Linked DNA regions of Homo sapiens. The protein of the gene in region 1 interacts with the protein of each later gene in a biochemical or structural test. Each region holds a gene or a part of one and is shown in the gene's direction. Other genes may lie near its edges.

The links. Proteins that work in one complex are often made in the same cells at the same time.
Region 2: the proteins of CDC42 (region 1) and IQGAP1 form a complex in vitro, tested with the Homo sapiens proteins (6 studies listed by BioGRID and IntAct).

What each region holds. Positions count from the first base shown.
Region 1 is NC_000001.11:22,083,709-22,087,208, forward strand, and holds part of CDC42 (cell division control protein 42 homolog isoform 1 precursor), read left to right. Parts: intron 1-2,730; coding exon 2,731-2,840; intron 2,841-2,960; coding exon 2,961-3,158; intron 3,159-3,500. UniProt on the Homo sapiens protein: Plasma membrane-associated small GTPase which cycles between an active GTP-bound and an inactive GDP-bound state. In active state binds to a variety of effector proteins to regulate cellular responses. Involved in epithelial cell polarization processes.
Region 2 is NC_000015.10:90,485,023-90,490,317, forward strand, and holds part of IQGAP1 (ras GTPase-activating-like protein IQGAP1), read left to right. Parts: intron 1-1,007; coding exon 1,008-1,110; intron 1,111-1,931; coding exon 1,932-2,067; intron 2,068-2,472; coding exon 2,473-2,560; intron 2,561-5,295. UniProt on the Homo sapiens protein: Plays a crucial role in regulating the dynamics and assembly of the actin cytoskeleton.

The sequences.
Region 1 (3,500 bases):
TGAGTTCTTTTACCACTGAATGGTGTTGGCACCCTTATCAAAAATTATTTGACCATATATGTGAGTGTTTATTTCTGGGTTCCCTTTGCAGTCAGCCCTGTCCCTTGACCTGGTTCCAGGCAACCACTGATCTGCTTTCTTTGTTTCTACTGTTTTGCTTTTCTAGGGTTTCATATAAATGGAACCATACAATATGTAGTCTTTTGTGTGACTATTTTTACATAGCATAATGTTTGTGAGAGTTGTCCATGTTGTGTGTATTGGTAGTTGTTTCTTTTGATTGCCGAGTGTTATTCTGTTCTATGAATATATCACAGTTTTGTTTATCCATTAACAAGTTGATGGATGTTTGGGTTCCAGTTTTAATACTGGTGCTATGAATTGCTTCCACGTTTTAGCTATTTTGAATAATGTTGCTATCAACATGGGTATACAGATACCTTGTTGACACCCTGCTTTCAGTTCTTTTGGGGTATATACCCAGAAGTGGAATTGTTGGATCATGTTTTTAATTTTTTTGAGGAACCTCCGTATTGTTTTCCACAGTGGCTGTCCCATTTTATATTCCTACCAACAGTACGTGGGGTTTGATATAGTCACATTCTTCTGTTCGACACTTATTTCCTGTTTTTTTTTTTTTTTTTTTTTTTTTAATTGTAGCCATCCTAATTAGTGTGAGGTGGTATCTAATTGTGGTTTTGATTTGTATTTCCTTAATGATTAGTGATGTTGAGCATCTTATGGCCATTTATATATCTTTGGAGAAAGGTCTGTTTAATCAAGTTCTTTGCCCATTTTTGAATTGGGATTTTTTTTTTGGGGTAAGTTTTAGGAGTTCTTTGTAGATTCCGGGTATTAATCTCTTATCACATACACGATTTGCATATATTTTTTCCTATTTTGTGGGTTGCGTTTTTATTCTGTTGATACTATTTTCTGATGTATAAAATTTTCACAGCTTCATGAAGTTTGTCTATTTTTTGGTGGTTTGGTGTGATATCCAAACAAATTATTGCCAAGTCCACCTGAATCTTTTGCCCTATGTTTTCTGGGAGTTTTAAAGTTTTAGGTCTAACATTTAGACCTTTTATCCATTTTGAGTTAATTTTAGTATATAGTATTAGGTAAGGTTTCATCTTTGTCTTTTGCTTGTGAATATGTCATTTTCTCAGCACCATTTATTGAAGAGTCCTTTTACCACTGAATGGTCTTGGCACCCTTATCAAAAATTATTTGAGCTAGGCTAGGCACGGTGGCTCACACCTGTAATCTTAGCACTTTGGGAGGCTGAGGTGGGCAGATCACCTGAGGTCAGAAGTTTAAGACCAGCCTGGCCAACATGGTGAAACCCTGTGTCTACTAAAAATACAAAAATTAGCCTGGTGCGGTGGTGTGTGCCTATAGTCCCAGCTACTCAGAAGGTGGAGGCAGGAGAGTCTCTTGAACTGGGGAGGTGGAGGTTGCAGTGAGCCGAGATTGTGCCACTGCACTCCAGCCTGGGTGATAGAGTGAGACTCTGTCTAAAAAAAAAAAAAAAAAAGAAAAATCATTTGCCCACATATGTAAGGGTTTATTTCTGGGTTCTCTAGTCTATTCCATTGTCTTATATATCTCCCTATGCCAATACCGCACTGTTTTGATTATTGTAGCCTTGTAGTAAGTTTTGAAATCAGGAAATGGGAGTGCTTCAGCTTTATTCTTTTTCAAGATTATTTTGTCTATTGTCCCTTGTTTCAAGATTACTATCCCTTGTTGGGATTTTGATAGGGATTGCATTGAGTCTGTAGGTTGCTTTGGATAATGTTGACATGTCAACAATATTAAGTCTTCCAGTTCATGAATGTGGGATGTGTTTCCATTTATTTATGTCTTCTTTAATTTCTTTCAGCAGTTTTGAATTTTTTTGTTATCCAAGTCTTTTGCCTCTGATTAAGTTAATTCTAAGTATTTTTATTATTTTGAGTATCGATTAATTCTTGCTAAATTTGTTTTCTAGGCTTTATCAGTTTCAGATACCGGTCTTATATACACGCATTAACTAAATATGTGAACCTCTGTTTGTAGTCATGATGGGCAGTGGATTTTGTCATCTGGGTTTCAGTGAGGTTTTTCTTTCCTTAGATGATTTCACTGTGATTGTTTCTTTACCATATCTGAGATGGAGTCTCACTCTGTCACCCAGACTGGAGTACAGTGATGCCATCTCGGCTCACTGCAACCTCCGCCTTCTGGGTTCACGTGATTCTTCTGCCTCAGCCTTCCAAGTAGCTGGGATTACAGATGTGCACCACCACACCCGGCTAATTTTTATATTTTTAGTAGAGATGAGGCTTCATCATGTTGGCCAGGCTGGTCTTGAACTCCTGACCTCAGGTGATCCGCCTGTCTCGGCCTCCCAAAGTGCTGGGATTACAAGGATTGATTTTTAACCATTTCTGTAGCAAGAGTTTATTATTACATTTATTATTGGGTTTCTAATGGACACAAAGATTGAACACCACAAACTGGTAATAAAAGCAAATAACATAATAGTAAATTCATTGCTGTTCTGAGTGCTTGAAGTTTGTAGAATTAGCTGATTGAGAATATTGCCCACATATTATATTACAAAGCCATACATTTTATTAGATAAGTAAGTTGCTTTTTGAGTAATGACCAGCATGCTTTTAACACTTTGAGGACACCAAGATTCAGTTGCTGAATTCTCTCCAATATTTTTCTTTTTTCTAGGGCAAGAGGATTATGACAGATTACGACCGCTGAGTTATCCACAAACAGATGTATTTCTAGTCTGTTTTTCAGTGGTCTCTCCATCTTCATTTGAAAACGTGAAAGAAAAGGTAAGCTGATCAGATACTCTTGCCCTAAGAAGATCATCTCAGAATTTCTACTGACCTGTTATAAATAGCATTAGAGGCTTGTTGATTAACAAAGGTGTATTTTAAAATACCTTTTTTTAGTGGGTGCCTGAGATAACTCACCACTGTCCAAAGACTCCTTTCTTGCTTGTTGGGACTCAAATTGATCTCAGAGATGACCCCTCTACTATTGAGAAACTTGCCAAGAACAAACAGAAGCCTATCACTCCAGAGACTGCTGAAAAGCTGGCCCGTGACCTGAAGGCTGTCAAGTATGTGGAGTGTTCTGCACTTACACAGGTAAGAATGGCATGAAACCCCATGTGTATTTATGGTCGAGTCATTTATTAGAGCATTAGGATACAGGAGTTATTTCTAACAGTGATCAGCAGTGCTCAAAGATGCCCAGCAAGAATATGAACAGCTTCATATTGTATGTTCTTTTGTTAGAGGCCTCTGTGTTTTTTGGAGAATATTATTAGTTCCTAAACCCCTTGTGTTGGTAAGCTCTCGTATTGTACTGAATGATTCGTAGTGGTCAGGGTTGTGTTAAAACAAAAACCTTACAGGAAAGGTTCAGATAAGCATAAACTTGCAAGAGACGATGTGAATGATTTTTTTTTTTTCTAAACACTTAAATTT
Region 2 (5,295 bases), on another chromosome or scaffold:
TTTTCTAACATGATCTAGAATACTAGCTTTCTCTGTGTAGCCTTGGAGTGGATTTTTCCCTTGGAAGCTGGAGCTCCATGTTTCTTCAGATTTTTCAAATCATTTTTTCCCCTCTGGGGACATGGACATGTAAAACAGGAACAAGGGCATATGTTAAAATGTAAATGAAATTTCAGGTTACTGTCATTTCTGAGGGCATCACTGGGGATAATGGCACCTTGAAGACTTTGTTGAGTGCCCCTACAATAATTATAACATTGATTTGGTATACTTTTCTCTGAATTAAATCATGTCATACACTGGAAACATTAAGTAAAAGCGTGCACGTGACTTATTTGAACTGGCAGTAGGGTACATTGATGACTTTGGGTATTGAACTTTGAGTTTCAGTGTTTTGTGGGTTTTTTGTGTTTGTTTGTTTTGTTTTGTTTTTTTGAGATGGAGTCTTGCTCTGTCACTCAGGCTGGAGTGCAATGGCGCAATCTTGGCTCACTGCAACCTCCACCTACTGGGTTCAAGCAATTCTTCTGCATCAGCCTCCCTAGTAGCTGGGATTACAGGCACACACCAGCACGCCCAGCTAATTTTTGTATTTTTAGTAGAGACAGGGTTTCATCATGTTGTCCAGGCTGGTCTTGAACGCCTGACCTCAGGTGATCCACCCGCCTTGGCTTCCCAAAATGCTAGAATTACAGACGTGAGCCACTGCACCCAGCCAGTGTTCTTTCTCAAACAGGGCACATTTGAATCCTTTATGGCCATGAGGTTAAGAGAATACCAGTATTTCCTCTTCTTATATCATAACATAAGTCATTCAACAGAGCCTGGTGTGGTGCCTTATATATCATATTGTTTATTTGGGTTAGTTTGCTGAGGATTTGCTTGTTGTTTCTTTGAATATAGGAACTTTGTTGGAACCTCTTTGTGCAGATCATTGTTAGACATTCTAGGGAGGGACGGGCTGAAGAGTTGAATGTATAAATGGAGTTGATCATTGGTGTTTGCAGCTCCTGTTGGATCACCAGGATGCCATTGCTCCGGAGCACAATGATCCAATCCACGAACTGCTGGACGACCTCGGCGAGGTGCCCACCATCGAGTCCCTGATAGGTAGAGTTCTAACTTTTGCCTGGAAGATCAAAAGGGAATGTGACAGAAAAGTGTTGTAATTGTCACCTCCTCTATTTTTTGCACTATACCAAACTCTGGATATACATTGAGAAATAAAATAGATGTGATCCTGATAGTTTCATAAGAGAGAAAACAACAACAACAACAAAAGCCCAGATGTGATCAATATCTATAAGGAACTGGAGTCAGAGGAAAAGATCATTTTAAACGCAGATACATACTGCCAGCTTGTGTTTTTTTAAAAAAATTGCAGATACATAAATTAAAAGTCCTCTAAAGGAAAGAATTTTTTTGTTTGTTTGTTATGAGACAGGGTCTCCCTCTGTTGCCCAGGCTGAAGTACAGTGGTGCAGTCATAGCTCACTGCAGCCTCAAATTCCTAGGCTCAAGTGATCCTCCTGAGTTGTTTTTTTTTTTTTTAATAGAGATGGAGTCTCACTATGTTGCCCAGGCTGGTCTCGAACTCCTGGCCTCAAGCCATCCTCCTCCTTTAGCCTTCCAAAGTGCTGGGATTGCAGGACTGAGCCACTGCACCCAGCCAGAAAGAATGTTTTCAGAGAGAATTGTGATATTGTAGTGTTGAAATGATTTCTCAAACATTTATGGAGTTATTATGGATCCCTTGCCTTTATCATTTGGCATAACATTTTATTTCTCAGTAAAAGTTGTTCTCGTCACACTGTATGTGTTAGGTGATTCAAGTATTATCTTAGACTTGCATCATCTTATATTTGTATTATTTCCCCCCAATATCTCCTCTCTTTATTACGCTGACTCTTTCCACCCTCCCAAAACTTCAGGGGAAAGCTCTGGCAATTTAAATGACCCAAATAAGGAGGCACTGGCTAAGACGGAAGTGTCTCTCACCCTGACCAACAAGTTCGACGTGCCTGGAGATGAGAATGCAGAAATGGATGCTCGAACCATCTTACTGAAGTGAGTATCAAAAGAAGGAAGAATGAAATGAATGTAATCTGAAGGTTTCTTGGCCTTTGGAGAGGAACCTGCTGGGTCCTACCTGAAATGACCATCCTGACCTCTCGTACTTGTCATAATCCCAGTCACCAATCACCTCGCATATTGTACTTGGTACAGGACTTATCTGCCTTATTTTGCTAATATGCTACAGTGAAATGTAAATCTTGGAAATCCTAACCCTCGTACCTACTTATGGAATGGCTGGGTAAATAAGCCTTGTGCCTTGAGTACTGTGTACTGGCAGCTGCCGCTTGGGACTTCTGTGAGGTACTGTTTGTGCTGCTGCTGCTGCTGCTGCTTCGGTCCACTTGAGAGGAACTAGAACACTGGTAATATTTAAATGCCTCCCCCATCTCGTTTCAGTACAAAACGTTTAATTGTGGATGTCATCCGGTTCCAGCCAGGAGAGACCTTGACTGAAATCCTAGAAACACCAGCCACCAGTGAACAGGTAAAATTTAGGGTCTAACATACTCCTTTGTTTGGTAGATAAGCTCTCCCGATAGGCGCATGTCAGAGAAAGGAGGGGAGACACAAATAACAGTTGGTAGCCTAGGGGTGAGCATGAATGTAACTGGGGGACAGTGGTAGTTATGGCTCGTCTGAGAAAGTTTTTGCTTCCTGAGTCCAGGTGATGTCCTTTGGACAGGAAGCTCACTGGCACTTGCATGCAGAATCATTGTGCCCATCCCGTATATCCATCCCTTGGTATCCACAGGCGATTCTTTCCAGCACCCATTCTCCCCACCCCCGGCCAATACCAAAATCCATAGATGTTGAAGTCCCTTATATAAAATGGTGTAGTATTTGGCCGGGCATGGTGGCTCATGCCTGTAATCCCAGCACTTTGGGAGGCTGAGGTGGGTAGTTCACGAGGTCAGGAGATTGTGACCATCCTGGCTAACACGTGAAACCCCGTCTCTACTAAAAATACAAAAAATTAGCCAGGCTAGGTGGTAGATGCCTGTAGTCCCAGCTACTTGGGAGGCTGAGGCAGGAGAATGGCATGTACCCAGGAGGCGGAGCCTGCATTGAGCCAAGATCGCACCACTGCACTCCAGCCTGGGCGACAGAGCGAGACTCCGTCTCAAAAAATAATAATAAATAAATAAATAAATAAATAAATAAATAAAATGTTGTAGTATTTGCATATACTTACGTTCTCCCATATACTTTAAATCATCTCTAGACTACTTATAATACCTACTACAATATAAATGCTGTGTAAATAGTTGTTACTGTATTTTTAAAATTTGTATTATTTTGTATTGTTGTATTTTTTTTTCAAACAGTTTCAGGGTTGGTTGAAACCATGAATGTGTAGGGTTCACTGCAATTTATTGAATATTATATATTTTGAATTCTGTTACATGCCTTGGTAGATAGAAGAAAAGTACAGAATGTGGCTCCTAAACTCAGTGAACCCATGGTCTTGTTGGGGAAATGTGACATATATACCTGAAACAGTGATGAACTGTTTCAAAATTAACTATGTTACTGACTGAAAAATAAGAGAAGTTTCAGGAAAGAGGCCAGTGAAGCAGTGCATTAGGAAGCTTCCTAAAAGAAGTGGAACCGGAGCCAGATGTATAAAGGTGGAAAGGATTTGGGTGTGCATGTAAGACAAGAGAGGGCATTCGAGGCAGGAGAGCGATGTGAACAAAGGTACAAAGGAGGGAAGAGCATGATGCGACTAGACTACATGTCTAGAATGGAGCTGTGGGTGGAGGTGAGTAGTGAGAAATAAAACATGAGACCAAATTATTTAGAACTCACAAACTAGATGGGAATTTGTCACTGCAGAGATAAGGAATAAAGAGCCTCTGTAAGGTTGAAGACCATTTAATAAAAGTTAATTAATTCAGCAGTGCTATTAGAGCAGATGTAGTTGAGTCATATAGGTGTGTGATAAGGTCCAGTGGGGTGGGCAGATGGTTGGGTCCTGGCATTTTGTAGGGTTGGATGAGTCATGTCATATCTAAGACCCTTGTTTCTTTTTTTTTTTTTTTTTTAATTTGAGACAGAGTCTCACTCTCACTCAGGCTGGACTGCAGTGGCGTGATCTTGGCTCACTGCAACCTCCGCCTCCTGGGTTCAAGCGATTCTCCTGCCTCAGCCTCCCGAGTAGCTGGACTACAGGTGTGAACCACCACACCTGGCTAATTTTTGTATTTTTAGTAGAGACAGGATTTCACGATGTTGGCCAGGCTGGTCTCAAACTCTTGACCTCAAATGACCCACCCACTGTGGCCTCTCAAAGTGCTGGGATTACAGGTGTGAGCCACTGCACCCGGCCATAGACCTCTGTTCTCATTTGTCAAGTAAGGAAAGTAGGTCAAGTCATTCATTCTCAAATTTTAAGCATGGTAATCTGTTTCATTAAATGACAACTTAGCTAAAAGCCCAGTATATAGAGCAGGTACTCTGCTACTCTGGAGCTACTCTGATAGCCAGCAATAGGGCATCTGAAATCCAGCCCTATAGGACTCTGTGATGCCTCTGGCAAACTCTTGAGGCTGCACAGAGAACTATTTGGAAACCATTGTTTTCAATGAAGTCTCAGCTGTCAGTTGCTATGACTGATTACTGATTAGATATGTGTGAAAGGCAAGTAAGGACATGTAAACCAATACTTGAAACATGTTGAACCTAGAAAGAAATTTGAAATAAGGAAGGAGGAGCCAGTCTTTATTGAGAACCTAGTATGTGTTTGGTGCTCTCACCTCTGTTCTTTAATTTAATCCTTACAATATTCCCATGAGTCGAGTCTTTTCATCCTTATTTTGCAGATGAGGAAACCAAGACCCTTACAGGTTAACTGGCTAAGATCATCAGCTTGCAGTGACAGAACCGGAGGTGGATCCAGTTCTGTCTGCCTCCAAAGCTTATGCTGTTTACATTATGTGATGCAGAGTAGTCTTGACATTAGAAAAAAGGGGACTATTGGGAAAGGGAATTGCTCCAGTTAGGGGGAATTACAAGTTTGAACTATGAGCCATCCCGAATGTAAACATCCCAGTACAAACAGCTCAGAATATGGCACCAGAGCCATGGTCACAAAGATTTAGGATCTGTCAACACAGAGGCAGTCAATGAAGTATTGAGAGTAAACAGAGAGAAATGGTCACAGATCACATAGAAGTACCAAACCATGCATAGAGCAAGAAGACAGTGCAGAGAAGATGA